Linked DNA regions of Homo sapiens. The protein of the gene in region 1 interacts with the protein of each later gene in a pairwise test. Each region holds a gene or a part of one and is shown on either strand. Other genes may lie near its edges. The genes, in order: ALAS1, MTFR2, PPL and CDC73.

Region 1 (7,832 bases):
CTAGTTTTTCATCTGCTTCACAGGAAACAATGCGTCTATGAAGAGTTAACTGGCACATTCCAGTTGCCTCTTAAACCCACAGTATTTCTCGTCATAAATCCAAAAAAAGTACCATTTTCTAGTTTTAGACAACCCGGAATCCTTGAGTTGGATCATTTCCAGTAATTTCTACCCCAACTACACTCAGCTTATTTTATGAGAGGACACACTCTGTAAGGTAACGGGAAATATTCACACACATTTTTTTCTCTGCTAACATTTTCCTTTCCTTTTTTTTTGAAACAGGATCTCACTCTGTCAACCAGGCTAGAGTGCATGGTGCAATCATAGCTAACTGCAGCTTTGACCTCCAGGCTCAAGTGATCCTCTCACCTTAGCTCTCCAAGTAGCTTGGACTGCAGGTGTTCTACTGCGCCCAGCTAATTCTTTTTATTTTTTATTTTTTGTAGAGACGGAGTCTTGTTATGTGGCCCTAGCTTCTATCAAACTCCTAGGCTCAAGCAGTCCTCCCGCCTCAGCCTCCCAAAGTGCTGGAATTACAGGCATGAGCCACCACATCCTGTCTCTGCTGACATTTTCTAAACAGATTCTTGACAAAGAGGCTTGCTGTTGCTTAACATAAAAGCTATTGGTTTTCATCTAAACAACAGAAATTAGACTAAGACTTAGGTCTTTAGATTGCTAATAAAGTAAGAAAAAATAGGGGTATATCACATTCACATACCTCATCTACTTTCTCATCTAAATTCATCAAAGTCTGCTGACTAAACACCGTTGGCTGGTAATTATCCTTCTAGCTACAGTGACTTCCCTCTCCCCTTGAGCAAATTCATTCACCTTCTTTCTAGAAAAGTCTTTCTTCATCATTCTGGAACACTCCTGTGAGTCACTGGCTAGCCTTTCCTATAACTTGGGTAAAGTGTCTCAATACAGTTTTCATTAAAATCTTCTATAACGGAAGGCCAAAAAAATTATTTTGAAGTTAATTTCATTTATTATAAAAGTAATACATATTCATTAAAGTCTAGAAAAAGAAAAAAATCCTATCATTTAAAACATAGCCATTGCAAGCATTTTGGTAAAAAAGACGTAACTAACTCTTGAAAATAAACCCTACAAAGGATTAAATCCTTTCTGCTTAAAGAAAAAAAAAACTTATTTTCTTACAAGCCCACACCCAGAGAACACGCCTAAGAAAAACCTGTAAAATATTCTCTGGGATTAAGTGGAACCTGAAAAGCTTTGTTCTCTCCTATCAGAAGCAGAGCAAACTAAATTCAACTCTAGTCTCTTTGTTAAAAACAACAACAACAAATGTATATACAAATAAAGATACATGGCATGATCTCAGCTCACTGCAACCTCTACCTCCCGGGTTCAAGCAATTCTCATGCCTCAGCCTCCCAAATAGCTGGGATTACAGGCGTACACCACCACATCCAGCTAATTTTGTATTTTTTGTAACAGTGGGGTTTCACCATGTGGCCAGGCTGGTCTCGAACTCCTGGCCTCAGGTGATCAAACCACCTCGGCCTCCCAAAGCGCTGGGATTACAGGAGTGAGCCACTGCACACAGCCAAGATAAATTTGTTTTTAAAAATCACTAATAAATACTGTACAATTTCACTTATATGAGGTACCTAGAATAGTCAAATTCATAGAGACAGAAAGCAGAATGGTGGTTGTCAGGGGTTGGGGAGAGAGGAATGGAGAGTTACTGTTTGATGGGTATAGAATTTCAGTTTGGGAAGATGAAAAAAGTTCTGGAGATGGATGGTGGTGGTGACACAACAATATGAATGTACCACTGAACTGCACATTTTTAAGTGCTTAAAATGGTAATTTTTCTTGGGCATTTTACCACAACAGAACAAAAACTTTTAAGAAAAAAAAAATCACTACTTTAAAAAGCCAAAGGGGCCGGGCACGGTGGCTCACGCCTGCAATCCCAGCACTCTGGGAGGCTGAGGCAGGTGGATCATTTGAGGTCAGGAGTTTGAGACCAGCCGGACCAACAAGGTGAAACCCTACTAAAAGTACAAAAATTATCTGGGCGTGGTGGTGCATGCCTGTAATTCCAGATACTTGGAAGGCTGAGGCAGGAGAATCACTTGAACCTGGGAGGTGGAGGTTGCAGTAAGCCGAGACTGCATCACTGCACTCCAACCTGGGCGACAGAGCAAGACTCAGTCTCAAAAAAGAAAAATTAAATAAATAAAAAGCCGAAGGCCAAATGTTTAATGAGGGAAATTAGAAGGCTAAATGTTTAATGAGGGAAATTAGAACATTCCAATTTAATATTTATGTGAACGAGGCACTGAGGAAACACTAAAACCCCTATAGACACTAACGTGCAATCCAAAAACCTGTAATGTGCAACACTGGCCACTGTTTCACCTTTAAAGATGGAAAAGCTAAAAGTGCCTACCCTTGGGGGGACAATCATATGAGATAATCTGTGCTCAGAGCCCAGCCTGCACATAGCAGCCCTCTGTGAGTGAGTGTGACCCTCACCACCACTGTGGGGACTGCTTCTAGTCTACCAATGAGCACAAACACCCATACCTGCTCCTTCATTGTCAATGACACTTACTCTCACTGGCCGGAGGGGTTTCTTTGATCTGTTGGTAGTGTACTGCTGCAGTGGACAATGCCCGAGGGGCTGGCTTGGCCCCAACTTCCATCATCTTGGGGCAGTTTTGGGCATAGAACAACAGAGATTTGCCTGCTTTCTGCAGAAAGGCCTGGGGGACTCGGGATAAGAATGGGCAGCGGCGAACAACACTCTCCATGTTCAGGAAGTATGCTGGCTCCTGTGGAAAGACTGATGAAGAGTGACATCAACAGTTGTTAATAATCAGGCAAATATCACTGCAAGCTCACTGGATTCAGGTGTCAACCGCAGTTTATATAAAGGGTACCCTGGAATACTAACACTTCTCCCTCAAAAATGCCTAAGGACAGCACTGATGTGAGCTAAGGAATGGTGACCACACTTTACCCGGGTCACCAACTTCTTCATTCTCCAGCGCTACACAAAGGCACCTGCAAAGCAACTTCACCAAATGAATACTGACAGTACATAATCAAGGGGGCGGAAGGATGAGGGAAAGGTCAAGAACAGGTTTGGGAGGCCAGAGGTTTCTTAGGGAGATGCACAGTGCAGATAAGACATCTTGGCTTACATCTAGGTGGAGAAGAAGCCACTCATCCATCCAGGCAGGGAAGACTCTTAGGGATCCTGACTTTCTCCTGGTCCCCACATCCCCTAAACCCGAGGAAGGGGTCCAGCAGGGTCCCGAGTCCCTGAAGCAAGGATTCCTCCGTGGTCGTGTCCCCACAGCGGGAAGAACTGGGCATAACTGAGAAAGGAGGGGCACAAATGAGGGTAGGGGTATGAGGGCCAGCGCCTTGGGCCTCACTGGGGACGCGCAGGGGCTTATAAAGTCGAGGGAGTTGAGTCTGGAGAAAGAAGGCAGTCCTCCGGCAGTGGGGGTCAGAGGTGACCCGCGGTCGAGGTCTCGAGAATGACGGGAGGGGTATGAGAAGGGAATTCTAAAGCGGCGGGTTCAACCGGGAATAGCCGGAAGGGGCCGAAAGGGGGAAACTGAGGCGGCCGTCTAGGCAAAAGATCTGGAGGATAAACGCTGACCTCAAGGCGGCGGGTGACTGGGACAGTGGGGGATGGGGTCCCAGCACCCGGGGCAGCGGTGCCACGGCTGGCAGGACACCCCGGGGCTTCCTCGGCCGGCGCCGCACCTACCGCGCGGGCCCTCACCTGCGCTGAGGACTGCAGAGGCGGCGGCGAAGGAGGCGGGCACTCAAGTCGAGAAGTCCAAACGAAACGCTCGTTGCCCTTGTCCGGGAGCAGCCTCAGGCCGCGATCGCCGGCGCCTTAATATACAGCGGGAGTGACCGCTGCGCATGCGCCTTGGGCGCTGCCTTCTTCTGCGCAGGCGCGCCGCGTAGCCCTCGGCGAGCCGGGGGGGCGGGGCAGAGAGGCCCACTTCTTGGGCTCTGCGGATATCGGTGCTGCCGGGGATTCCCCGGCTCGCCTGCAGGGAGGAGGAAGCGCTAGGCGGTGGGCGGACGAGGTCTCTTTTCCCGACCTCATCCTGCACCCTCGTGCTGCCTCCCCACCAACTACCCTGGGCTTCAGAACCCTACGCCCCAATTGAGTATAAAATGGCAAGGTCGAGGCGAGGTGCCGCTAGGGCCAAGTTGGGGGCTACAGGGTTGTTAAGCTGGGTGTCTTGGACATGGAGGAAGAAGGAGATCCAAGGGGTTCTGGGCCGGGGTGTTAAGCAGGATCCATCCCGCCTGCGGCTTGCTTTGGAAACTGTGAACAAGGGCTTCCCGGAGGAGGTGGAGCTGGCTATATCGCCCACAAATGGAGTGGTCCTGGCAGGATGCGGAAGAAGCGGGACACTCAGCTGTGGCACTTTCTGGTCTAAGATGATCCAGAGGGGACAGAGGAACAGGGCTAGGGTGGAACCCATCCACTCCACAGCTCTGAGCACTTGGGGAGGAGGGGAAGGCACAGGGCCTGACAATAGTTAGCGTGTAACAAATATTAGCCACTATTTTTATTTTCCATCCAGGGTTGTCTGAAGCCCCTTGCTGGCCACCCTGGGCACCAGCAGGGTGGCTTAGGCCTCCATGCCAAAGGTCAGCGTTGGGCCATACCTCCATTGAGTTTCCCGGGTACAACACATAAAGTGTAGGGCTTGGCAAACCCGTCTCAGGAATGTCAGTCTGGCTTCCTTGCCCCACACCCTTCCCAGCTTGGCTTGGGCTGTGTTGGGCTGGGCCTGTGCCAGGCTCAGAGGTACTCTCCTCCATTCTTGAGGAAAGGGCCTTTGAGGGTATTCCTTTCCCAGCTGAGCATTAACAAGAGGGACAAAGTCCAGAATGATGGTGACCAGGGTGTGTCCAGGTACTTTGCATTTCTGTCTCTGAGCACCCAGCTGGCTGCAAGGCAGGTGAGGTGAGTCTCCACCTTCAGAGGAGGCACCTGGGTTCAGAGTGGCAGTGGGACCAGTCCAGGATGAGGGCTTTGGTCTGAGAGCTCGAGACCCAGTTCTGTGCCATTCAGCCAAGAGATCCTGGGCAGTGCCCATCACCCAGAGAAGATGAGAGAGAAAAGGTCAGCACTTGGACTTGGACCCAAGTGCAGCTGGAAGTGGGAACAGAATAAGGATGATATTGAGTGCTTTGCTCATCTTTGGGCCTTGCTTTCCTTATCTGGGCAATAGGATCATAATCCCTGAAATGCCTGCCTCACAGGTTGTTTTTGTTGTTGTTGTTATTTTGTTTGTTTGTTTGAGACAGAGTCTCCCTCTGTTGCCCAGGCCGGAGTGCAGTGGCACAATCTCGGCTCACTGCAACCTCTGCCTCCCAGGTTCAAGCGATTCTTCTGCCTCAGCCTCCTGAGCAGCTGGGATTACACCACCACGCCCAGCTAATTTTTGTATTTTTAGTAGAGATGGGGTTTCACCATGATGGCCAGGCTGGTCTTGAACTCCTGACCTCAAGTGATCACCCTCAGCTTCCCAAAGTTCTGGGATTATAGGCTTGAGCCACTGCGCCTGGCCCTCATAGGGTTTTTTTGGGGGTGATCAGAGCCAAAGCCAAAGCAGAAAGAACTGGATAGTGGAGTTGGGCATGGGTTTCAAACCCAGCTCTGAATCTTACTTGGCCATAGACTTGGGCAGGCCACAACCTCTTCAAGGCTTGGTTTCCTGATTTGTAAAGCTCTCCCGCCCTGCCACTTGTGGCTGGCAGGAGGGTCAGGTGAAGTCCTGTATTTCAGAGGCTTATTGTTTAAACCAGCCAGTCCCTAGCCCTCTGGGAGTTTCCTGTTTAATATAGAGAAAGATTGGGAAACAAGGCCGACTCACATGGAAAGTGAAATAGAGTGTTGTAAGCAACTCCAGATGGAGGAAGAGGAGGAGGCTATTACTCCAACAGGCGCTGAAAGAGGAGGATCCCAACCACGAGGAAGGCTTCCAGAAGAGAAGCGGGTGCTGGTTGGAAGGGTGGATCTACATGCGACTGGGAGACTGTGGGTGAAGCCTTGGATGGAAAAGGCTCAGCCCTGTGGGGGTGGCGGTTGGGGGGTCAGCGTGAGTCAGCCCAAATAGCTGGGCAACGGGAGTATGGTCAGGACCTGACGCCAAGAGGTCAGACCAGAAAGGCCCTAAATGAGCCACGGGGTTTCCCAGTGTCAGGGCCCAAAGAACCACCCCCAGGGTACCGGTCAAAATGCAGATTCCTGTGCCACACACCTTTGATTTTGACCCAGAAATCTGCATTTTAACCAGCTCCCCTTTCTGATGAGGTAAGGGTGAGGTATCTTGGAATATGTTTCTTGAGTGGTTCAAGGTTTGAGACCTTGAAGAGCAAGGCATAAGCCATGAGTTCTAGTCCTAACTCTGAGATCTTGAGCAAATTGCCTCATGCCTTAAATCTTAGTTTTTGTGTCTGTGAAATGAGAATGACCCCATCTGCCTCAGTGATGAGTCTGGGTGGGCACTATTCTGCTCCAGTTGTGATCCTTCGGGGCCTCTTCTTCTCCCCTCCGCCCCCTCCTCCTCTTCTTCTTTCTTTTTCTTCTTTTCCTTCTCCTTCTTCGCCTCTCACTCCTCCCTTGTCCTTCCCTCCTTCCCCATCTTCTTTTCCCTTTCTCTCCCTTTTTCTCTCTCCCTTACCCCTCCCTCCCTTTTCCCTCCTTCCCTCCTTCTCCCTCCCTCCCTTCCTTCTCAGAGCTACAGTATAAACTCATCTTATCACTCGCTCTGGCCCTGGGCAGCTGGAGTTGAGGCAAGGTCAGGCCCCATCCCAGGGATGACGCTGGGGACTTTTTTCCCTCCCACCCAGTCTGCATCATGGTCATCATTACCATCACTATCACCGTCCGGGGCTGCTGCACATAGTACCCACCCAATGGTCAAGGCAAAAGGAAAATGTCAACCCCAGCCCCTAGAATTCCCCCTTTTTATTCTGGGCCCCAGGAACTATTTTTATTTTTATTTTTATTTTTTCTCCCTTAAATAGCTGTTTATTAGCAATGTGCTAGAAAGGGTGATGGAGTTAGCATTCACAGACAACACACACCGCTGTCACGAGGGAGGCAAGCGCGCGGGCAAGCCAGCCTGGAGCCCCGAAGAGGAGTCCCCCTCTTCAAGAGAGCGTGGGAGGGGATGGGGCCTGGGGTGTTGGGGGGCAGCCTGGGAACACCTCCGCTTACTAGGCATGGTTAAAGATGAAGAGGGACTCACTGGCAGCAGCCCCAGCCTGACCGCTTGGAGTATACTTTCCTTGACAGGCGTGGCTATCTGCCAGGGCTCACTTGACATACTCCTTCTGCACAGCCTTCAGGTTCTCCTTCTTCCTGCCCCAGGCCTTCAGGGCAGAGGCCTGCAGGGCTCAGCTATATGAGAAGGTCAGGCCCCAGGGCTTCAGGAGGGGGCACTTGTTAATGGCATTGAGGTTGATGGACACTTCCTTGCTCTGGCCTCCAGACAGGAAGGTGATCCCAGGGACAGTGGGGGACACTGTGCAGTGCAGCACTTAGTTTTTGTGTCTGTGAAGTGAGAATGACCCCACCTGCCTCAGTGATGAGTCTGGGTGGGCCCTGTTCTGGCCCAGTTGTGATCCTTCTAGGCCGCTTATTCCCCAGAGTGTAGTGCTTGTGACAGTTGCCATGGCAATCTCCTCATGAGAAAACTTCTGGATGCAGGCATGGCCTGGGGTGACCATATTGGACTTCAGCAAGGTGCCTTCCAGGTAGATGTCATGGTCACTCAGAGCCTTGTAGAGCAGCCACACCT
Region 2 (7,874 bases), on another chromosome or scaffold:
GAAAACACGGTGGCTGGAGAGATGAAAACTGAGGAGGAAGTGGTGGAGGAGGAGGAGGAGAAAGCACTGAACCTGGAAGCTGATCTGGGTCCACACTCAGATGGGCAGCCCGCGATGATGACAGCTGACCCAAACTAATGCGCTCGTCACTCAAGCCAAAGGAACCTACAAACAAAGTGGTTTATTACAAAATCATGCACAATTATCTCTAACGTAATATATATTAATAACACTAATTAGAACCAAAACAGGAGCAATTTCTGTAATGCTAGTAGCGATATGGTAGCAAGGAAAGAGTGTCAATCCCATCTGCTTAGTAATTTAAGAGTCAAGTCAAATTGTGAATTCATTTTTAATCCAGTTAGGAATTTTCAGTGTAGGTCCAAGAGCAGAGCGGGGAGGAGAATGCATCTTAAACAAACAAAAAAAAGAGTTTTTTCAGTAATTCACATACACTCTGAACTTCATCCTCTATTTTAAAAAAGCTAAAACAGAAATCAACAACTTGTAGTTAGAAACACAAATTGATGTATTCACTGTATAATGACATTGGAGAAATAAGCATATTATTTTCTAAGCAAAGCTTAAGATGGGTACTGAGTATTTAACTTTTCCACTTTAAGATTTGCTCATAAAGGACTGTGGGTAAACACGATTGCTTAAGAAAACTGTGTATAGTTATATATCATTTTATTTATTATGTATAAATATAAGTTATTGTATATTATATAATGTGTTTATATGTAAATGTTATAAATATACACTGTATAAATATCTTAAATTATATGTGTATTTATGCATTTGTATATATACATATGTATTAAAAAATTTTTAGCAATTATATTTACACACAGCCCTTTACAGCCAAATCTGTTGTGAAAAGCATTCAGTACCTAGATTGCTTTACATTTTATACACGCATACATACATGTTGTGTGTATGTGTGTGCATAAGTTTAAAGCAAGTTGTATCTCTATAAATTTATAAAACAATCATCTGGAAAACATGACTCACCTCAACTTGGTGGAAGTGTAGCAGCAATAACTAAAAACTATAAACATATGATGCCTCAAACCTATATCCTCTTTCAAACCAATGCATTCTTCCTCTTTAATATCCAATGCTTTCATGAAGAGTTAGAAAAGCTTACTGAGGGCCGGGCGCGGTGGCTCACGCCTGTAATCCCAGCACTTTGGGAGGCCAAGGCGGGCAGATCACGAGGTCAGGAGATCGAGACCATCCTGGCTAACACGGTGAAACCCCGTCTCTACTAAAAATACAAAAAATTAGCCGAGCGTGGTGGCGGGCGCCTGTAGTCCCAGCTACTCGAGAGGCTGAGGCAGGAGAATGGCGTGAACCCGGGAGGTGGAGCTTGCAGTGAGCCAAGATCGTGCCACTGCACTCCAGCCTGGGCGACAGAGCAAGACTGCGTCTCAAAAAAAAAAAAAAAAAGCTTACTTAGAAGACAACAGACTTTTTAATACAAAAATACAATCTTCTAGTATAGTAAAGCTAGTTCTTCTTTAAATCAAAGCCATCCCCTCACTACAAATGTGTCTTAATTTATCCTGAATAAACATCAGATATAATAATTTTGTATATTCAACATCCTTTTATGTACATTTAATGTTTTCATGGTACTTATTCAGAATTGTACTCACTTAAATACTAGATGTTCCTGTATGCTACTATACGTACTATATTCAGTACAGTATCATGCTGTACAGGTTGGTATAGGCTATACCATGAGTATCATCTAACTGAAACAAAAATCCTACTGTTACTTACTAGAATTTGTACTATTTTTCAGTTCCTGCATTTCCACAATTGCTGCAATCTGAGAGCGAAGAAAAGTCAGCTCATTTTCAAGGGCAGCTATTTTTCTAATTGCAGCTTCATTTACAGGCAGGTCATTTTTCACAGTTTCTTTCTGTCTTACAGCAGGTGACAGTGGATCCCGAACTAGTCGCAAAGGATGAAAAATTTCCACTTTCTCTTCTTCATTTTTCCATATACTATTTCTGTGGGTGAAAAAAAATAGGAAATGGAGGGAAGATATATTTCCAATCAAAAGAGGTATAAACTCTTACACTCCTACGTGAAAATCAAAAGACAATAAAACAAAATAAAAGCTACTCTCAGGCCGGGCACAGTGGCTCACACCTGTAATCCCAACACTTTGGGGGCTGAGGCAGTGAATCACCTGAGGCCAGGAGTTCGAGACCAGCCTGGTCAAAATGGCGAAACCCTGTCTCTACTAAAAATATTTTTAAAAATTCGCCGGTGTGATGACGTGCCCCTGTAGTCCCAGCTACTCAGGAGGCTGAGGCAGGAGAATCACTTGAGCCTGGGAGGCAGAGGTTGTGGTGAGCCAAGATCGTGCCATTGCACTCCAGCCTGGTCGACAGAGTAAGACTCTGTCTCAAAAAAAAAAAAAAAAAAAAAAAAAAAAACCTACTCTCTATCCCCCATGATTGTTTCTAGAGTCACCACTGAGGACAAGGAAAATATCTTATTTAGCTTTGTATTCCCAATATAAACAGAACATAGCCTCCAATGGAGGACCAGTCAGTGACCAGGGAATGAACAAAACAAACTTTGCTTTTAGATTATAAAACCAAAATAATTACCTGCAATTGTTCTACTTATTAACTTTAAACGCAGGTAAGTTAATTTATTTAGAAGTTCTATATAAGTTAATAAAGAGCCTTACATTCAGGATTATGTTAGGGTGAAATGTATGTTATTTTAACTATTTGAAAATTGGTGCCAGTTTGATACATAATAAAATCAGCCGGAATACTTAAATAATTGACACTTAATGTGCTTAGAGCCTGTATCTGAATATACTAACATATAAAGTAATACTCCCTAGGAGTAACACATCCAAATTTTGAAATACATTTAACATCATTGCCTGGTGCACAGTAAACAGTATATAAGTTTTGGCTAAAAACATGATTCTAATATCCCTTTAATAACCACTCCCTCCTAGGCCTGGTGTTAGGTTTAAATGTGCACTAAAAAAAAAACAACTGGCTAAAAAAATGAAAAGCAGCCAGTCTTCTTTATTAAGAAGATACAGTAGGGCACAGCACAGTTTGAAGATAAACAAAACAAAAAAGCTCAATCAATCTTAACAAGCTTCGACACATGCAAGAATTCAGTTTATAGCCCACTTCCCAAGATAAGCATATAAAATTACCGAAATCTGAGATAACTGGCTTCTTCATCATTTGCCACATACAAAATATCAGCAAAAGATGGAACCATAGATCCACAATTATCAGAGTCTACAGAGTTCAAGAGCGGGATCAACTAAAGTAAAAAAAGAAAAAAATAGTCAGAGCTCTGCAGGGAGTCAGGAGAAGACACATGCCCCATGGTATTAAATTAGTTAACAATCCAAAAGAAAGAAAAATAAAAAGAATATTCAATAGAAAAACATGTACCTGTTAGCACGAAAGAACACTGGGGAAAATGTTATGCTGAAGTCTAAGCACTAAGCAATATTCTCTCCCCTGGTTAATTTCATCTATCACAAAATGCAAAATAAAATTAAGCTCTTCAGTTATTGTTCACACTTGCCCATCTGTGAATGTCATTACAGACATGTACCACGTAACATTTAGGTCGATCATGGACTGCATATACATGGGGTCACATAAGATTATGATGAAACTGAAATATTCCTATCACCTAGTATTTACTATATTATACTTTTTATTATTATTTTAGAGTGTATTCCTTCTACTTAAAAAGAAAAGTTGGCTGGGCATGGTGGTGCATTCCTGTAATCCCAGCACTTTGGGAGGCCAAGGCAGGAGGATCAATTAAGGCCAGGAGTTCAAGATCAGCCAGGGCAACATAGCAAGATCCCGTCTCTACCAGACCAAAAAAAAGTCAGCCAGGTGTGGTGGTGCACACCTCCCAAGTAGTCCCAGCTACTCAGGAGGCTGAGGTGGGAGGATCACTTGAGCCCAGGAGGTTGAGGCTGCAGTGAGCCGTTATCACGCGACTCCACTTCGTTCAGCCTGGGCGACAGCAAGACCTTATCTTAAAAAAAAAAAAAAAAAGTTAACTATACCACAGCCTCAGGAAGGTCCTTCAGGAGGTATTCCAGGAGAAGGTATTGTTATTATAGGAGATGAGAGCTCCATGCATGTTATTGCCACTGAAGGCCTTCCAGTAGGACAAGATGTGGAGGTAGAAGGCAGTGATATTGATGATTCTGCCCTGGGTAGGCCTAGGCTAACGTGTGTGCTTGTGTCTTAGTTTTAACAAAAAAATTTTAAAAGTATAAAAAATTTAAAAATTTTTAAATCATAAAAAGCTTATAGAATAAGGATATAAAAATATTTTGTATAGCAGTACAATGTGTGTTTTAAGATAAGTATTATTACAAAAGAGTCAAAAATTTTTACAAAATAAAAACATTTATAAAAAAAGTTACAGTAAGCTAAGGTTAATGTATTATTGAAGAAAGGGTTTTTGTATAAATTTAGTGTAGCCTAAGTGTACAGTGTTTATAAAGTCTACAGTAGTGTACAGTAATGTCCTAGGCCTTCAAATTCACTCACCACTCACTGACTCACCCAGAGCAACTTCCCATCTTCCATTCATGGTAGGTGCCCTATACGGACGTAACATTTTTTATCTAATTTTTACTGCATTGTTACCATACTTTTTCTATGTTTAGACACACAAACACTTACCATTGTGTAACAACTGCCTACAGTATTCGGTAAAGTAACATGCTGAAAAGGTTTGCAGACTAGAAGCAACAGGTCATACCATATAGCCTGGGTGCATAATAGGCCATATACCATCTAGGTTTGTGCCAGTACACTCTGTGATGTTTGCACAATGACAAAATCACCAAACAACGCTTTTCTCAAAATGTATCCCCCCATCATTAAACGATGCATGATTGTATTTAAATAAACAAAAACACAAAAACATATATGAAATGGCTTGTTCCCAAGGGTAAACTACAGGTTTTTGGCTTGCAGGAAATGTTTCTTCCTTTGTTGTTCTACCCCATACCTGTAAGAGTACCTAGGATTATTTTGTACTTGGTACTTAAACAATTTATGTTGACTGACTTACCTCAAAATTAGGTCTTCGACAAGGTTCCAGTGGAAGCATTTTCCCAATAATACGAACAATACTCCTAGTTGATCCATAGTCTTTATTTTCCCAAATCAGCAAAACCTATTTTAAACATAAAGTATGAATTAAAATGCACTCTGATTAAGCATATTTATATAAGTATGAAAAAAGGAGATGTAAAAAAGACAAAAAAGACGCAGTGGCATTTTTTTTTTAATACAGGGAGTCCTGTAAAATAACATTTATTTTTAAAAAGAAATATAGAATGGCAGAGCCTTTCTTCAAAGAATAGAACTTTGTGAGTATTTGTCTTAAAAAGAGATGGTAGTAAACATATATACATTCCAGGAAGATCTTTTAAAAAGCACAATTCATTTTGTTCTATTTCTGATAATGTCCAATACCTTGGGAGAAACTTTGTTCAAAAAAATTGCATCCCCTCCCCCAGCTACAAATCCCATCTTTTTGGCCCAACCAAAAATAGACAATTTCAAATTATCAAGCAACGACGTAATATGGAGTATACTTATGTAATTTCCTTTAAAGGAGAAATAAAAAAGGGAATAAATAAATCAGGTCCTAGACAATTCAGAGTTATTTACATAAAGTGAAATATATCTGCTGGCAGTCAGCTCTTGAAAAGGCATTAGAAGTAATAATGTGCTACTATAGCTCAAATAATACTTCATCCTTTAGTGTGGGCTTCCCAAATTAGTGTAAACCATTGCCACAGGAACCACTCTCCCCCACCAGCCAAAAGATGTGATATAATAAATTGGACATTTTTCCTAAGATCCCAACTGATATAGGTAGCCACCTATTAGCATCCTCATTAAAACAACCAATAAACCGCCGGTCTCAGCTGTTAAACAACAGCAACAACTAACAACAGCAGGCTAAATAAACTGTGGGTTGTGCACCTGCGTTTTGATTGTGACCCATCATGTGAGGTCAGGTGTAAAATTTTCCCATTGTGGTGTCATGCTGGCACTCAAGACATTTGGGATTTTGGAGCATTTCAGATTTCAGGTTTTGAGTGATGCTCAACCGATAATATTTTTAAATTGCTAAGATTATTTTACATTTTTTTCACACTCAGTCTTCAAAATCCCTTATATAGGTTACACCTATAGAAGATCTCAATTCAGATATTTTGAGTACTTAAAAGTGACATGTGGCCAGTGGCTATCATACTGGATTGCACAGCCTAGAGGATATAGATCCCAGACCTATTACTAGTAGAATATTTGGAGGATTGAGCATTTATATTTAAAGTGTTCTACAGACCATTCATCTGCGTACCCCTGCTAAGAACAACAGGCATAGAGGCTTTGCTACCATGACGGCTACCTATGACATATACAGTCACCCAAGAGTTGGGTTAGTTCTTAGTTAATTTAAATGATACCTTCCTATCTTGCTCGGCAGTTTCCATCCTAATAAACTCTTGTCCTTCCTCTCATTCCTTCATTGCCCCTGGCCATCTTCACCATTTTCGTTGTTGTTGTTGTTTGCTTTTTGAGGTTTTTTTTTTGAGATGGGGTCTCACTCTGTCACCCAGGCTGGAGTGCAGGGCATGATCAGGGTTCACTGCAACCTCCACCTCCCAGGCTCAAGCAATCCTCCTACCTCAGCCTCTGGAGTAGCTGGGACCACAGGTGCACACAACCATGCCTGGTTAATTTTTATATTTTTTATAGAGACGAGGTTTCATCATGTTGCCCAAGCTGGTCTTGAAAACCTGAGCTCAAGTGATATGCCTGCCTCAGCCTCCCACAGTGTTGGGATTACAGGGGCGACCCACCACATCTGGCCATCTTCACCATTCTTATTATTTCATCTTCCCTCTATTCCTGGTCTAGTACCCACATTTTGACTTTACTAATTTTCCTACCAAGCATGGATTTTCTGGTTAATTATTTCAGTAATATGTTCAATGCCACTCAAAAATGGTTCATTCTTTTGATATTATGTGCTCCCACACTGCTAATGAATACACTACTGTAATTACTCTTAGCTAGGAAAAAAAAATCACAAAACGACAATATTTAGAAAAACTACAATTCCATGATGACTTCAGCTGGGTTCTCACAGGTATTCTGAAATCCCTTCATAACATGTTACATTCTATACCACATTGCCCAGAGCAGTCTCCAATCTCTGAAATCCCTTCTCAAATCCCACCACTTCATTACCTGCAAGTGACCTTGTCTCTGCTCTTACTGAGAAAACCGAGAACTTCAACTTGACATACCTCAACTTCACTTCTCTTACTTAGCTCCATTCAAAATCTCTTTTCAGGCCAGGCGCAGGGGCTCACGCCTGTAATCCCAGCACTTCGGAAGGCCAAGGCAGGTGGATCACTTGAGGTTAGGAATTCAAGACCAGCCTGGCCAACGTGGTAAAACCCCATCTCTACTAAAAATATAAAAATCAGTTGGGCATTGGTGGCAGGCTCCTGTAATCCCAGCTACGCGGGAGGCTGGGGCAGGAGAATCACTTGAACCTCGGAGCAGAGGTTGCAGTGAGCCAAGATTGCACCACTGCACTCCAGCCTGGGCAACAGAGCAAGACTCCATCTTAAAAAAAAAAAAAATCTCTTTTCACTCTCTCTCACTTTCATTCTGTTCTTTAAGGCAGGACAGTCTCTCTCCTTTCCAAGACTTATTTAATTAGATCCCTTGCCCAACTACCTTCTCAAAGGCGGTGCTCAATCCTCTCTCATGTGGATCTTAAATTTCTTCCTGTCTGTTTCTTCCAGA
Region 3 (8,080 bases), on another chromosome or scaffold:
CTCATCTGTCCGGCTCTATGCTCCATTGCTCCTGCCTGGCCCCATCAGTCCGACGCTCATGTAACCATACATGTACTGAAGCTTAACTCCATCTTATCTCTGTGATGTGACTGCCAGCGACTCAAGTGCAGGGAGGTTGTCCACGTCTCCTCCACGACCACGTGCTAAAACCCAGCAACAGTGCCTATGGAATTGTGCAGTGCACAGCCTGTCCACCATGATATCAAGTTTAACCCTGGGTACACCACAGCTAGCTTGCCCGCATTTGCTTAATAACTGTAATCGTCACAGATGCTATTACCTGCGGCCGCTTATCATTCACAACCTTTCCCCTGCATTATTTCATTTAATCCTGAGCCAACATCGCCAGGCAGGCACCGTGCTTATTCCCATCCCACAGGTGAGAAAACAGGCTCAGAGAAGCCAAGCAGCTCCTCTGAGGTCGCACAGCCAGGAGGGTGGCAGCGGGTCTCCTCCAGGGCCTCTCTACTAGGCTGGAGGCTGTCCTCGGTCACCTGCACCATCTGGCCTGACTCTGTCATTAGCTCAGGTGTGAACATCAACTCCCACACCTGTCATTAGGAACCCGGGCAACGGGAGCAACGGGGTTCACACCCTGTCCCGGCCCTCCCCAGCTTCAGCTGCTAAAAGGCAGACAAACTGGAAGGGGTGGCTTTCTCGGTGGGGTGTTCCGTTCACTAATCCACACTTTGTAGTCCAAAGGCCTGACTACCTTGGGTATGAAAGTCACCACTTGGGGCTCCTGGGTCCCCTGGGCTCGGAAAGGGCTGCTACCCTCATCCGGGCACCTCCTGTGTGCTACAGCACTGCTCCTCCCAGCAGCCCTATGCATGAGACACTCAGTATTACCACCCGTGCTGTGCAGAAAGGGAAAACAAGGCTTCGAGAGGCTCCAGGGTGGAGATGCCAGGATCAACAGTGAGGCATTCTGCTCTCAGTGCTGGAGCTCCTACTGCCCCCCATGCTGAATCTCACCAGCAATTTTGTCCTCCCCCAGACAATGGAGCGGGCCCCTGGAAAACTCAGAGTGAAGGAATAACTTGGGGATCCACTCCCTGTGACCAGCGACCACAGCCTAGAGCCGCAAGTCTGTCCCCTCCACCCCCCCACCAAGACACTTGCTATGGGGCTGGCTGGGCATCAGGCAATGTTCAAGAGATGCGTTTGAGAGGATGGGGTACAGGGCTACCCCCACCCCACAATCCAGTCTGCGAACTAGTCCCCACTAAGGGGAGGGGGCAGAGGGATGCACTGGGCTTGGAGACCACCCGGGGAGGCATCTGACATCTGCTCAGGGCTGTGGCTGTGCTCATTCTGTGCTGGGGTGGCAAGGCTCAAAGGAATGGTCTTGCACCCCAGGCTGGGGAGAGAATCAGGAGGGCTTCCTGGAGAAAGAGACGTCTAAATGGAGATCTGGGACCAATGGCTATCAGCCTAGGACAGACCGTGGCTGCCTTGGGCCAGATATACAGAGAGTGGCAGGACCCCAAATCTTTGCCACCCCAGACCCTCCCAGTCCCTGCAGCTATAAAGGATGGGATGCCTTTCATCCTCATGCTTCTGGGAAAGCCCGCACCCCTCCCAGCTTGTCTGGGTTCATTAGAACCTTTTGTTAGGTCCAAGCTGGGGCCTTCAGGATGGAGAGCTGCACGAAGGAGGGAGGCTGGGAGGAGGCAGAGGGCGGGGCGAGGCCTGGCCCCACCACTGGTATGTGGGTGTCTGCATGTGTGAAGGACTGGATGGGTCTAGTCTCTGGGGTGGAGAGGACAGAACGGTTCTCCACGGCTGGCACGGAGCATCCAATTGTGCAATGCCCCAGGGAACAGTGCAGGGACTGGACGGGCCTCTGGTTGGGTCTGAGTGCCAGCTGGACGCAGCCATGGAGGAGGGGTGTGCAGGCCCTGCCCAGTCTCTGGGGTTGTGAAAGATAGGGGAGGGGTGGGGAAATCTCTAAAGGCGGGTAATGCCTCTGAGCTTGAAAGAGCCCAAACGGAGATACGGGTGGGTGGGATCACAGGGCAGGGGGGTTTCTGAAAGGGCTGGAAGGCCCCGGAATGGAGTGTCGCACTCCAGCGTGCTAGGGCCCCGCCGCCTGCACCTGTCCGACTGGTCGGCCTAGGCCGGACTGCAGGGGTTGAGTGGGAGCCCTGGGCCCAGAGGCCTCTCCTTGCCTAGGGAAGAAGTGAGGAGCTGCTTGAGGGCACAGTGGGGGCTCCCAGTGAGAGCAGCTTGGGGGCAGAACTCCCAGACAGGAGAGCCATGTAATGTGCGGGCCCCTCACCTGCCTGAAGCCTCTTGTCCGAGAAGCTGGCAAAATGGTCCTTGCTAGCCCAGAGCCCCCACTCTATTTTCCGAAGTGGGGATATAAGGCAGGGGCTGGATTCCCACCCCCTCCGTCAATCTCAGCATCTCCACCAGGCTCCCCTAAACCGGTTATTAAGTGAACACATTAGGCTTATCAAAAGGGACGTGGGCTGCTTCTCCCTGCAAACACATCAAGACATGCCATTCCCCTCCCAGGCCGCCCTGGGAACCCGCGGCTCAGAGACGCCGCCAGTTTCGGGGCTGGGGTGGGGGCAGGGAGCCACACCCCTGCGAAACCGAGCTTCGAAGAGGAGGCCCCGAAGCCGCCCAACCTCCGCTCAGAACCCAGAGGGTGGGGAGGTAAGGGGGTGCCTCCCCCTGTGCCCCTCGACCCGACCCCACACCCCCCAGGGCCTCCGGGCGCGGCTCTGGCGCGCAGGGTGGCAGGTGCCGGGAAGTGCAGCGGCGGGTGGCCCGCCCCCTCCGGACACCCATCCCTCGCCTCCCCGACGCCAGGAACACTTGCGCGGTCTCAGAGGCGCTGGAGAGCGCCCCCCGACGCCAGCTCAGTTTCCCTGCCTCAGGGCGCCCCCTGGACGGAGCTTCCTGGGTCGCCCGCAGCGACCCCGCCTTGAGTGCCCGGTCCTCCAAAAACTCCGCCCCCTCATCCAGGTGACTATTCCCGGTCCTGTGCGACCCTCTGCGCAAGAGCGACCCTGGGACACGGGGGTGCCCTGTACCCCCAGCTCAGCTGCCCGTGCCCTAGGCCCTCAAGGCAATGCTCCCTGGGCTCCCGGAGTCCCCTGTGTTATGCTCCCCCTCGGGGACCCCAGCCAGTCCCTTCCCACCTGGCGGCGCTTCCCAGCTTCAGGGTGGCCTCGGTCCCGCGTTCCCGAGAGTCCCGCACTCCGGGTTCAGTTCCCGGTTCCTGGACCCCCGTACCCCCCATTCCTACACTGCCCGGGAGGTCTTCCAGGTCCTGTGCGCCCACAGGGGCAAGAGCGTCCCGGAGCGGAGCTGTGGGCGCCTCCTCACCTCCGGGTCTGCACAGTGGGGCTGTATTTGCCTTTGTTTCTCTTCCTGAAGAGCGAGTTCATGGTGGCGCTCGGGGTGCGGGCGGCGGCGGCTGGCGGGCCGGGCGCGCACCGAGGGGCGGGCGGGAGCGCAGGTGAGCGAGCGGCGGCGCGGGGAGCCCGGACTGCGGCGCGGCAGTGGCTCCGGGTCCCTACTCGCTGGGGGCGGGGCGCCCGCCGGCCACTGGCTCTGCGGGCCGCTCCCCGAGAAGGTGGTGCTTACCTTCCCGAGGAGGGGCCACCGCGCGGGCGGGGCTTGGACGCGGGGGTGGGGACACTGGGTCTTGGCCGGACGCCGCCCACCCCCAGCCGGGGGACTCCGGAGGCCGGGCAGGCACTGGGGCGCAAAGGCCGCCGGGGCGAGCGCTCGCAGCCCCACCCTCCTCGGGCCCGGCGCGCCTCTGGCCGAGGCCTTCACCTGGTTCTGCGCTACCGCGGAACTCGGCGCTCCTGGTGCTTTGGCGGACACCCAGCTGGGCCCCGCAAGACAGGTGCGGCAGAGACCCGCACGGATTCATGTGCCCTAGTAGCTAGCGAATTGCACTCAGATGGTGGCAATTGAGGGAAGGGGGCTGAACTGCCGAGGGCGCCGGCCTGAGTTCAAGCCCTGCCACCCCCAGGTTGGCTGACACTCCTGGGCAAGGTGTTTTACTGCTCCCAGCCACAGTTTACTTCTTTGTCAAACGGTGATAACCACCACCCCATCCGAAAGGCCTGTGGGGATGTCCCTGCAGGTAATGCACGCAAAGCGCTGAGCGCAGTGCCCTGGCCTGAATCTGCTCTCCGCTTGCCATCTCGGGTGGACAAAAACTCCTTTGAAACTTCAATAACTCCAGGCCCTGGCACTAGAAGAGCGCTTCATAGCTGGTCATAAAAGCTGCTCGATTGCGGCTCAGAACAACGACGTTGCACAATTCTGCCAGCATGTCCTGGCCCAGACTGTGTGCCAGTGGAGGAGGCTGCCCTTAGACAGAAACCTAATCTGACCTGAAGCCCGGATGGCACACACCACCACACCTGGCTAATTTTTAAAAATTTTTGTAGAGGCAGAGTTTCACCATGTTGCCCAGGCTGGTCTTGAACTCCTGTGCTCAAGTGATCTGCCGGCCTACAGCCTCCCAAAGTGCTGGGATTACAGATATTAGCCACCGTGCCCAGCCAACCTTATTCTTAATGGGGCTTCTATGGGTGGGCTTAACCCATTTATGCCTGAGGTTGCAATTTTTTGAATTGATAAATCATACCTTGGCAGTGACCTTGAGCAGTAGGAGATAACTCCCACAGGCGTCACGTTCCAATAATGGACCACTAGGCGTAAATAGAGGTGTGATTCCTCCTAAAGTTGTGCCTGCCTGCCTGCCTTCCTTCTTTCCTTCCTCTCTCTTTCCTTTCTTGCTTTCTTGCTTTCTTTCTTCTTTCTTCTTTGAGACTCAGTTGCCCAGGCTGGAGTGCATTGGCACAATCATAGCTCACTGCAGCCTTGACTTTTGGGGCTCAAGCAATCCTCCCACCTCAGCTTCCCGAGTAGCTGGATCCACAGGTGTCCACCACCACGCCTGGCTAATTTTTAAAACCTTTATATTTATATATGTTTTTTGTAGAGATGGGGTCTCGCTGTGTTGCCCAAGCTGGTCTTGAATTCCTGGGCTCAAGCAGTCCTCCCACCTTGGCCTCCCAAAGTGCTGGGATTTCAGGTGTGAGCCACTGCACCCAGCCCTAAAGTTGCTTTCAAAATGTGTGTGTCCAAATGTGCATTTTTCTGGGGGAGGATGTATTGCTCAGTGGAGTCATTTACTCATTCAACACATGTTTCCCATCACTCTCACAGCCTCAGTGTGCCTGGCTCTGCTTGTTGTACACGGATGAGAAAAGGGAAAAGAACAACACAAAAGGGGCTTTCTCTTTGGGAGCTTTCAGGTCCCGGGGCAGGGGACACATATTAAAAATGTTAACTTGGATGGGCGCGGTGGCTCACTCCTGTAATCCCAGTACTTTGAGAGGTCGAGGCAGGGGGATCACCTGAGGTCAGGAGTTCAAGACCAGCCTGACCAACATGGTGAAACCCCGTCTCTCCTAAAAATAAAAAATTAGCTGGGCGTGGTGGCGCCTGCCTGTAGTCCCAGCTACTTGGGAAGCTGAGGCAGGAGAATCTCTTGAAACTGGGAAGGGGAGGTTGCAGTGAGCTCATATCACGCCACTGCACTCCAGCCTGGGAGGTCACAGTGAGCTGAGATCGTGCCACTGCACTCCAGCCTGGGCGACAGAGTGAGACTTCGTCAAAAAACAAAAACAAAAACAAAAACACGTTAACTTTTCTTTTTCTTTCTTTTTTTTTGGAGATAGGGTCTTGCTGTGTTGCTCCGGCTGGAGTGCAGTGGCGTGATCATGGCTCACTGCAGCCTTCCTTGACCTCCCAGACGGAAGCCGTTGTCTCTTCTCAGCCTCCCTCTCAAGTAGCTGGGACCACAGGTGTGCACCACCATGCCTGGCTAATTTTTTTTAAATTAATTAATTATTATTTTTTTTTTGACAGTCTGGCTCTTGTCGCCCAGGCTGGAGTGCAATGACACACTCTCGGCTCACTGCAACCTCTGCCTCCTGGATTCAAGCAACTCTCCTGCTGCCACCACGCCCTGCTAATTTTTGTATTTTTAGTAGAGACAGAGTTTTGCCATGTTGGCCAAGCTGGTCTTGAACTCCTGACCTTGTGATCTGCCTGCCTCAGCCTCCCAAAGTGCTGGGATTACAGCTGTGAGCCACTGTGCCTGGCCTTTTTAAATTTTTTTAATTAATTAATTAATTATTTAATTTTTTTTGAGACAGAGTCTTGCTCTGTCGCCCAGGATGGAGTGCAGTGGCATGATCTCGGCTCACTGCAAGCTCCGCTTCCTGGGTTCATGCCATTATCCTGCCTCAGCCTCCCAAGTAGCTGGGACTACAGGCGCCCGCCACAACGCCTGGCTAATTTTTTGTATTTTTTAGGAGAGACGGGGTTTCACCATGTTAGCCAGGATGGTCTTGATCTCCTGAACTTGTGATCCACCCACCTCGGCCTCCCAAAGTGCTAGGATTACAGGCGTGAGCCACCACGCCCGGCCTTTAATTTATTTTTTTTAGAAGGAGTCTCACTCTACCACCGGGCTGGAGTGCAGTGGTGCAATCTCGGCTCACTGCAACCTCCGACTCCCTGGTTCAAGGGATTCTCCTGCCTCAGCCTCCCGAGTAGCTGAGATCACAGGCACGTGCCACCATGGCCAACTAAATTTTGTATTTTTAGTAGAGACGGCTCAAACTCTTGACCTCAGATGACCTGCCTGCCTTGGTCTCCCAAAGTTCTGGGATTACAGGTGTGAGTCACTGCACCCGGCCGCCTGGCTAATTTTTAAAATTCTTTGTAGAGATGGGCTCTTACTATGTTGCCCAGGGTGGTCTTGAACTCCTACAGGCTCAAGCAATCCACCTGCGTCAGCCTCCCAAAGTGCTGGGATTGCAGGCGTCAGTCCCTGCGCCGGCCAAATTGTGAACTCCTTGAAGGGGTCTGGGGACATATGGGGGAGAAAGACCCTGGGAGAGGCGGTGGTTCTAACATTGTTGCACCTTAGAATCTCTACAGGAGTTTGTAAAAGGCATATTCTGGGGCCCTGGGACCCTTGACATCCTGATTGGGGGGGTCTGAAGAGGGAGGGGCCTAAGAATCTGAAATCTGGACAAGCTTCCCTGGGTGGTCTGAGGCCTCAGTGTGTGCAGCCTCCCAGCTGCTCAGGCAGACAGCCCTGAACAGACCTCCCCAGCAAACCCAGTCCTTCCCCAACTCGGCTCTGCCTGGCTCAGTTTCGGGTGCCGCCCCCAGGTGGGCATTTCTCATTGGCAGGTAAGGGCATGACAATGCCCTCCCTCGTCCAAAAGTGACTTCCTTGCCTAGATCTCAGGGCCCCGAAGGGATGCTTCCTCCAGCCAGCTGATATTGGGAGCAGGTGTTAGAGAGGAGCTGGGGTTTCAGAACACAGGTGTGCGGGGAGTCACCTTGCACCCGCAGAAGCCTGAACTCAACATGGAGCTGGCTCAGCACACAGACCCCTTCCCCATACCCCAAGAGGGGTTCCCAGGGAACTTGTGCGTCCTTGCTGTCGCCCCCTGGTCTGCCTATGCCTGGACACCCTCTCCTTTCTCGTTCCCCATACCTTTCCCCACAGGTGGGCTCTTACTCCGGGCTCAGCATGCCTTGAGGATGGTCACTGCAGCAGTGTTGCTGACCTTGTACTAAGTGTGCATCCTGGGATGCTTTTGGCAACACAGTTGCTAATGGAGAAGCTCTGTAAAGAAACTGCTGCCTATTTGGAGGGGGATGGTCCGGTAACCAGGGCTGCCTACACCAGGAAGACCCTGCAGCTGGAAAAGGGGCAGATGTGGAGACCATATGTAGACTAACATGGAGTGGAGTGCCAGATGCAAAGTGCAAAAGAAAGAGGGAAAGACAGAGTGTGTGGTGTGTAACATGCTTGTCTATGCACAAAAAACTTCTGGAAGGATACATGAGAAACCGTTGCTGAATCTCCCCAAAAAGGACAAGAAAGAAGTTTGAATTTCTTTTCTTTTTGAGATGGAGTTTCACTCTCGTTGCTCAGGCTGGAGTGCAGTGGCGCGATCTTGGCTCACTGCAACCTTCGCCTCCCAGCCATTCT
Region 4 (7,874 bases), on another chromosome or scaffold:
CAAAATATCTGATATCCAATCCCAATTTGAAGTCCAGAAAAAAACAAACTTAAAATCAGATCTCTATACTTGCTATTTGCTTTTGGAAATGAGTGAGTAAAACACGTAAAAGCCCACGTAGATATAAAGTTATATGTTAATTCTGAGAAACCACAGCACATATATAATGATTCCATGTTATATAGAGTCCGTAAAGATCTGATGATTCACAAGCAAAGACAAAAGTTTGGTATTAGTGTCTTAAGTATACTCTATTTAATACACATGCATAGTATTTTAAAAGTATAATAATCTAGAATATAAATAAAAGTATAAAAGGTAGAATGGTCTAGAATATAAATATGCAAAATGAGGTTAACAGAATTCCTGTTCTACATCACCAAGTCCGATCATTAAATAAAAATTTAAAATGTTAAATATGGCTTGGTCAGAATATATAGAAATAACCATTTTTAGGTTAAAAAAAGAAAGTTTGCTAAACATGAACCAAAGGCTTATATTCACAGATACCCAAGTATTTAGTTCTGTTAATTACATACTTTGTAAGCATTATAATCACTATAATCCATCTCTTTAAAGAGCGAAAGACATTACATTGTTAAAAACAAGGCTGGGCACGGTGGCTCACACTTGTAATCCCAGCACTTCAGGAGGCTGAGGCGGGCGATCACGAGGTCAGGAGATCCAGACCACAGCGAAACCCCGTCTCTACTAAAAATACAAGAAAATTAGCTGGGCATGGTGGTGGGCACCTGTAGTCCCAGCTACTCGCAGAGGCTGAGGCAGGAGAATGGCGTGAACCCGGGAGGCGGAGGTTGCAGTGAGCCGAGATCGCACCACTGCACTCCAGCCTGGGCGACAGAGCGAGACTCTGTCTCAAAAAAATAAATAAATAAATAAAAATAAAAACAAAAGATATTATGCGAAAAAGCTCTCCCAAACTGACCTCATAACTTAAAGGCTTTAAATACTGACCAGGTGGCATTGCCCTACTTGCAAGTTAATCAAATCAGCTTTTATTTACATATATTCAACTTAATTTGAAGGAAAAGAAAAATGAAACAGGATACCCATGAATCAAATAATACACCACACAGATCAATCAGCACAAGTGATCAATAAAGAAAAATGTTTGAAATAAAAAATATGAGAGACTAAAGATTTACTTCAACATGTGCTACTCACATAAAATCCCTGGAACAAAAGAACATCTACAGCCAAATTAACTTACCGTTACAGATTTCAGTGTCATACCATGGTAGGTTCCCATAGTGTCAATTTTGAAGCCTTCCGTTTCTACGAAAAAAAAGAGGCTTATTGTTAAGATTTTATAGATCATGTATCTTATGACCTATAACAAATCTAAAGTAATAATCTACATTGAATGTGATGGTTCAATAATATACAAAGCCTTGAATCTACTATGTAAAATTAAATTACGTACTTGTGAAGATAAAAACTTTAAAAAGGACTCTAGGTTAAAAAATATTAATATATTAAATACAGACCAGCAAGCCTATTGTATAGAAGCTGGTTAAGACTATCTCTGCAATTATGTTCAAAAATTAAGATTGAATACTTTATAACCCCAAATTACTTACTACTAATACTCAATGATAGTACCACTAAAAGCATCTAATACCATGAAAAGACCCAAAGTTATAAAAAGTAGTGTTCCAAAGTTTCAGTCATAAGGCATATACTTATTTTTATATACATACATACATATATATTTTTTCTTTTGAGACAGGGTCTCACTCTGTCACCTAGGCTGGAGTACAGTGGCACTGCAGTTCACTGCAACCTCTTCTCCCATCCCCCCTCCACAGGTTCAAGCAATCCTCCCACCTCAGCCTCCCGAGTAGCTAGGACCACTGGCATGCACCACCACACCCAGGTATTTTTTTGTATTTTTAGTAGAGATGCGGTTTTGCCATGTTGCTCAGGCTGGTCACAAAGTACTGAACTCAAGCAATCCTCCTGCCTCCACCTCCAAAAGTGCTGGGATTACAGGTGTGAGCTACAGCAATCAACCATATTACATATTTTATAGAAAGCAATGTTGTAAATAATGATTGGAGTGCCAGGACAGAATCCCAATATGCCTTTCTGTAAAGGCAAATATTTTAACACATTGCAAGCCTTAAAATCTGTCACAACTGCCCAATTCTGTATTTTAGTGCAAAAGCAGAATAAACAATATATGTGATCAATTGGGGGCAACCCAATTTGGCCCATGGAGGGTGATATTTAGTTTGGGGGCTGTAATTTATCAACCTCTGCTTTATATAATTCATTCCTCAAGAAAAACATTGAATATTATAATGAAAGAATGGACGTAGTCTTTCTATGGCACATATCCAGTGCATGCCTTTAACAACTGAATGAAGTCAGCACACAAAATTCATTGCATCAAGGCAACATATCATTTAAAAAAAACTTAAATGAAGATTTCAGATTATGCTTAAAAATATCATTAACTTCCAGTTGCTTCTACCTAATATTTTCATGAATCAAGTCATGATGAATGAAGATCCCAAGAGGAAGTTACACTGACATTAGTCTCACCTCACAACTGCAGAAATGGTGTTATTGCATTAGCCAGAATACCACGTAGACTATCACAAAGTAAGTCCTCCCATCATTGCTCAAAATTTGTTTCCAAGTTCTCAATGTACATACACATTTATAACTTGGGAAAAATGACTTAACATATAGAATCTCTACTTTAAATTATATAAAAACAAAAGCAGTATGAATAACAGCAAACATTTATAGATAATTTACTTACATATCAGATACTATTCTGGGAATTCAATATTTATTAACCAGTCCAATACTCACAATAATGGTAAGAGACAGGCACTATAATAACATTTTAATTATACACAGGAGAAAACTAAGGCAGAATGCAGTTAAAGTAACATTAAAATTCACACAAAAAGTTACTACGACATAAGCTATCTGGATCCAGAATCCATGCTATTAACCAGGGGTTGGCCAACTTTTTTTCTGTAAAGGGCCAGATAATATTTTTAGGCTTTGTAGGCTACACAGTCTCTACTGAAACAATTCAATACTGATGTCACAAAGCCAAAGCAGCCATATATAAAATACATAAATGAATGAGTGTGGTTGTGTCCCAACAAAATGTTATTTAAGAAAAATTGCAGTGGGTAAGATCTGGTCTGTAGACATTACTTTGCCAACCCTTACCCTTAAACATCAGGCCACACTGCCTCTCAAGTTCAACACAACCACACTAAGGGGAAGATAAGAATTAAGCAACTTGCCTTCTTTTCCTTTGAATCTTTCCTGATCGTATCTGTTATAGGCAGCTGGGATAGGCTGTTTGGTGCGCAAAGTGGGATCCTGTAAAAAAATTAATTATGAGTTACTTGTTAATATTTTTAAATGTCACTTATTTAATGTGCTGGAGTGCAGTAGCATGACCATGGCTCACTGCAGCCAAGACCTCCTGGGCCCAAGTGATCCTCCCACCTCAGCCTTCCAAGTAGCTGGGACCACAGGCATGCACCACCACACTCAGCTAATTTTTTTTTTTTTATAAAGACAAAGTTTCACCATGCTGCTCAAGCTGGTTTTGAATCCCAGCCTCAGGTGATCGACCTCAGTCTCGCAAAGTGCTAAGATTACAGGCATGAGCCACCATACCTGGCTAAAGTACCTTTACGACATAATACTCTTCCCTGCAATTATGATTGTTTTAACAAAACAAAAAAACCCAAATTATTAATCCTTAAATAAACATGAAAGCCATGATGATTAATCCATTATAAACAGAGTAAGACTGAAGACGTATTTTTTTTAAATAATTAGAAAAGGCTGTCAGTCTAATGATGCATTATTTAATCACAAATACTTTATCAAAACTCACAATGTTTAACAAACTAAAAACACATATTTAGGAATATTCCCAAAGCTACTTGGAAAATTCATGAAGACTGAAATACTTTTCATTTTATTATGATAGGATTCTATATCAAATATTATGCCAAATAAAATATACTTATCAATACCTATCAAGAATGATAAGTATATGCTTACTTCACACTAGGCATATACTTCTATAGTCAAATGCCAAACATTAAAACCTTCAAGTATTCTAACGATTATATAAATATACAGAAAGAATAATCAGTCACAAATGGTAAAACTGTTTTAAGGTTTGACATGTTTCCTATCAACAGCTATTCAAAATGTCAACAAATTCATAATTCTAAGTACCTTGTGCTTTGCCATCATAGCTCTTACTCCACTACTTTAAAAAAAAAAAAACATCTAATAAGTAGGGAACTGCTGAGAGATCTAGGTTACATGGTCGTTTGAGAATCTAACTAAACCCTGAGGATCTGAGGTGGAACAGTTTCATTCCAAAAACCTCCCCCTGGTCCATGAAAAAACTGTCTTCTACGAAACTGGTCCCTGGTGCCAAAAAGGTTGGGGACTGCTGTATTAGACTATAAGCTCAAAGAAAGTAGGGACTATAATCTTTCTCACTATTGTATCTCAAGATCATTAGCAGACTTCCTAATAGAAGGCACTTAAGTACTTGATGGAGAGTCAACTAAAAGTATTTATCTAATTATCAACAAAAGCCTACCATCTTTAAAAGTTAAATTCCAACAATTTCATGAGCAAATAAAACTACTACAAAGTAGTTGCAAAGGCTGTATTAGTACTCTAATACATTTCAATGTGCCTTTTAAAACTTGAAACAGAGTTTTAAAAATATAGAAGGTTTTCTGGAAGGCCGAGGTGGGCAGATCACCTGAGGTCAGAAGTTCAAGACCGGCCTGGTCTTGAACAGGACGAAACCCCATCTCTACTAAAAATACAAAAATTAGCTGGGTGGGGTGGCATGCGCCTGTAATCCTGGCTACTTGGGAGGCTGAGGCAGAAGAATCGCTTGAACCCAGGAGGCGGAGGTTGCAGTGAGCCAAGATCGTGCCACTGACTCCAGCCTGGGCAACAGAGTGAGACTGTCTCAAAAAAAAAAAAAAAAAAAAAAAAAATTATAAATTTTCTATTTATAGAATCTTCTATTTTCTATTGCAGAAAATAGAAACAATTTCATTTGTATGTTTTATTCCTTTGTTGAATCATATGAAAATAGCTGGAAGGATTTTCAACAAAATTAGAGGATGTTTGAATTTAAATATAGGCTATATGTCATACGTGAAATTTACTTTGGGAGGGTCTTAAGTGGCACTTCAAAGAGAAGGCAGTCAACTCTCAGAGCAGCTGAAATGGAGGTACAATTAAAGGACAGCATGGCTGGTGATCAAGAGAAATACATTCACCAAGATGTAATAGATACAATGCCAAAAAGAACCCCAAACTGGGAGTTAACAGGGATTTATGTTATTAACAATGGTTAGCAATTGTCCCAAGCAACAATGAGTAGGCCAGCCACAGTTTACCTAAAATAAATAGAGGGCTTTCCCTAATTAACCTTTTTCAGACTCTGACCCAGGTATATTAAGAATTACTGCTCCAGTTAAGAATTACTGCTGAAGTAAGTAACTTTTAATGTTGGGGAGGGCTTTCACATCTTTCAGATATGCTAAAGGAGCAAAAGGTTTAGAATCCACTGATTTTAAAATGTGAAGATGTCTTCAACGTTACTACACTGCAATATAAGTGGCAACTTCATTAAATCTACTGTAAAGCAGTAAAGCATTCTTACCACAGGTGCTGCATTTGGGGCAGGTCGCTGTTCAGGTGCACGCCCTTCTTCTCTGGCTTTTACAGATTGAAGAATTGCAAAAATGTTCTTGGAAAAATTCTAAAATATAAATGGATTTTAATTAAGCCCACTTTAAATATACAATAGTAAATTTAGTTGATAATTTAAGACTAAGTTATCTTACTATCGATTCTTCCCTACTACATATGTCATAAGGTATCATTATTATACACATATGTAAAAACCAACCACTACTAAGATATTGATCCAGAGACTGATTATTGTAAATCCCATGGTATTCATTTCATCATTTTCATTTTACTTAAACTGCTACATTCGGGAGGCCAAGGCAGGCAGATCACGAGGTCAGGAGATGGAGACCACCCTGGCTAACACAGGTGAAACCCCGTCTCTACTAAAAATACAAAAAATTGGCTGGGCGTGGTGGCAGGTGCCTGTAGTCCCAGCTACTCGGGAGGCTGAGGCAGGAATATGGTGTGAACACGGGAGGCGGAGTTTGCAGTGAGCCAAGATCATGCCACTGCACTCCAGCCTGGGCAATAGAACGAGACTCCATCTCAAAAAAAAAAAAGAAAAAAAAAACTGCTACAAATGTATTCATATTCTGCATCTGTTCAAATATATAACCAGAAAGCAAGTTAAAATCTAAATAAGGCCGGGCACGGTGGCTCGTGACTGTAATCCCAGCACTTTGGGAGGCAGAGGCAGGTGGATCATGAGGTCAGGAGATTGAGGCCATTCTGGCTAATACGGTGAAATCCCGTCTCTACCAAAACTACAAAAAATTAGCTGGGCGTGGTGGTGGACACCTATAGTGTCAGCTACTTGGGAGGCTGAGGCAGGAGAATGGCGTGAATCCAGCAGGTGGAGCTTGCAGTGAGCCGTGATAGCGCCACTGCACTCCACCCTGGGAGACAGAGCAAGAATCCGTCTAAAAAAAAAAATCTAAATAAAATATAAATACATTTGTCAAAAGAGGCTTCTAGTTCAGAAAAAAAAATAATCAACTACTACATCCTCCTGTTAAACTCCAGTGCTAATTTCAGATTGCTACATATGAGTTTTGAGATACTATCAGAAGTCAATGTACACTTTTCAAAGATGTGTAAGTTGGAAAGTACAAGTACAAATGCTCTTCAACTCACAATGCAATTACATGCTGATCAAAAGTCAACACAGCTAACTAATCTGACGACTCTTTCCTTCATGAAATATTCTTCCTTCATGCTATGGATTGAATGTCTCCTCTAAAACCCATGTTGAAATTTTATTCCATTCTAATAGTATTAGGAGGTGGAGCCTTTAGGAGGTGATTAGGTAGGTCATAGGGCTCCACCCTTACGAATGGATTAATGTTGTTATTGCAAAAGTGGGCTCGGATTCCCGAAAGAGTAAGTTTGGCCCCATTTCTCTCTGTGTCTCATTTGCTTGCTTGCTTGCTTGCTTGCTTGCTTGCTTGCTTGCTTGCTTCTGCCTTCTGCCATGAAATGACCCTCACCAGATGCCACTGCTATGCTCTTGGATTTCCCAGCCTACAGAAATATGAGAAATAAATTTCTTGTCTTCATAAATTACCCAGTCTGTGATATCCACAGCAGCACAAAACAGACAAAGATACTTGGCCTCTGAGATGCTACTCTCTCTTGGTTTTACCCCTAATGTCTGACAGTTCCTTTGGGGCTCTTCTTATGCTGCCTATCAATCACTTAACATTTGAAGGAATATGTAGTAAGAATCTACTCTAAGCCAAACACCTTGCTTGGCACTTGGGTACAATGATGATCAAAAAAGACATGGTCGCTGCCCTCATGAACCTCAAATACAACATAATTTCTCTTCTTTAAACAAGGCATTCTGTTTCCTTGGCTGGGACCACTCTTCCCACCTTACCCCTCTCACCTCCCTCACTAGTTTTTGTTCTTTAGGTATCACTCCTCTTTACTCTCAACTAAGTTAACTGCCCTTGCTGGGTGTCTGCCCTATAATGTACGTAATAATTACCGCTTATTTAATATTGACTTCTGCTGAAGAGTATAACTTCTGTGAGAGCTAGGACCAATGCACCTCTGGTCAGTGTTTAGCACTTGCCTAGTTTGTAGATGTTAAATAAATACTATACAAATAAATATGTATATAAAATGAG

What was found.
Region 2: the proteins of ALAS1 (region 1) and MTFR2 interact in binary tests that used the Homo sapiens proteins (3 or more experiments, as listed by UniProt).
Region 3: the proteins of ALAS1 (region 1) and PPL interact in binary tests that used the Homo sapiens proteins (3 or more experiments, as listed by UniProt).
Region 4: the proteins of ALAS1 (region 1) and CDC73 interact in a two-hybrid assay, tested with the Homo sapiens proteins (3 studies listed by BioGRID and IntAct).

Annotation. Positions count from the first base shown.
Region 1 is NC_000003.12:52,194,202-52,202,033, reverse strand, and holds the start of ALAS1 (5-aminolevulinate synthase, non-specific, mitochondrial isoform 1 precursor), read right to left. Parts: upstream 3,875-7,832; 5' UTR 3,779-3,874; intron 3,363-3,778; 5' UTR 3,216-3,362; coding exon of another isoform or gene 3,186-3,215; intron 2,825-3,185; 5' UTR 2,814-2,824; coding exon of another isoform or gene 2,793-2,813; coding exon 2,594-2,792; intron 1-2,593.
Region 2 is NC_000006.12:136,239,656-136,247,529, forward strand, and holds part of MTFR2 (mitochondrial fission regulator 2), read right to left. Parts: exon of another isoform or gene 7,806-7,874; intron 5,215-7,805; coding exon 5,110-5,214; intron 3,319-5,109; coding exon 3,206-3,318; intron 2,022-3,205; coding exon 1,789-2,021; intron 166-1,788; coding exon 1-165. UniProt on the Homo sapiens protein: May play a role in mitochondrial aerobic respiration essentially in the testis. Can also promote mitochondrial fission.
Region 3 is NC_000016.10:4,933,624-4,941,703, forward strand, and holds the start of PPL (periplakin), read right to left. Parts: upstream 3,526-8,080; 5' UTR 3,423-3,525; coding exon 3,361-3,422; exon of another isoform or gene 3,275-3,360; coding exon of another isoform or gene 3,174-3,274; intron 1-3,173. UniProt on the Homo sapiens protein: Component of the cornified envelope of keratinocytes. May link the cornified envelope to desmosomes and intermediate filaments. May act as a localization signal in PKB/AKT-mediated signaling.
Region 4 is NC_000001.11:193,145,802-193,153,675, reverse strand, and holds part of CDC73 (parafibromin), read right to left. Parts: intron 5,810-7,874; coding exon 5,711-5,809; intron 3,373-5,710; coding exon 3,294-3,372; intron 1,297-3,293; coding exon 1,232-1,296; intron 1-1,231.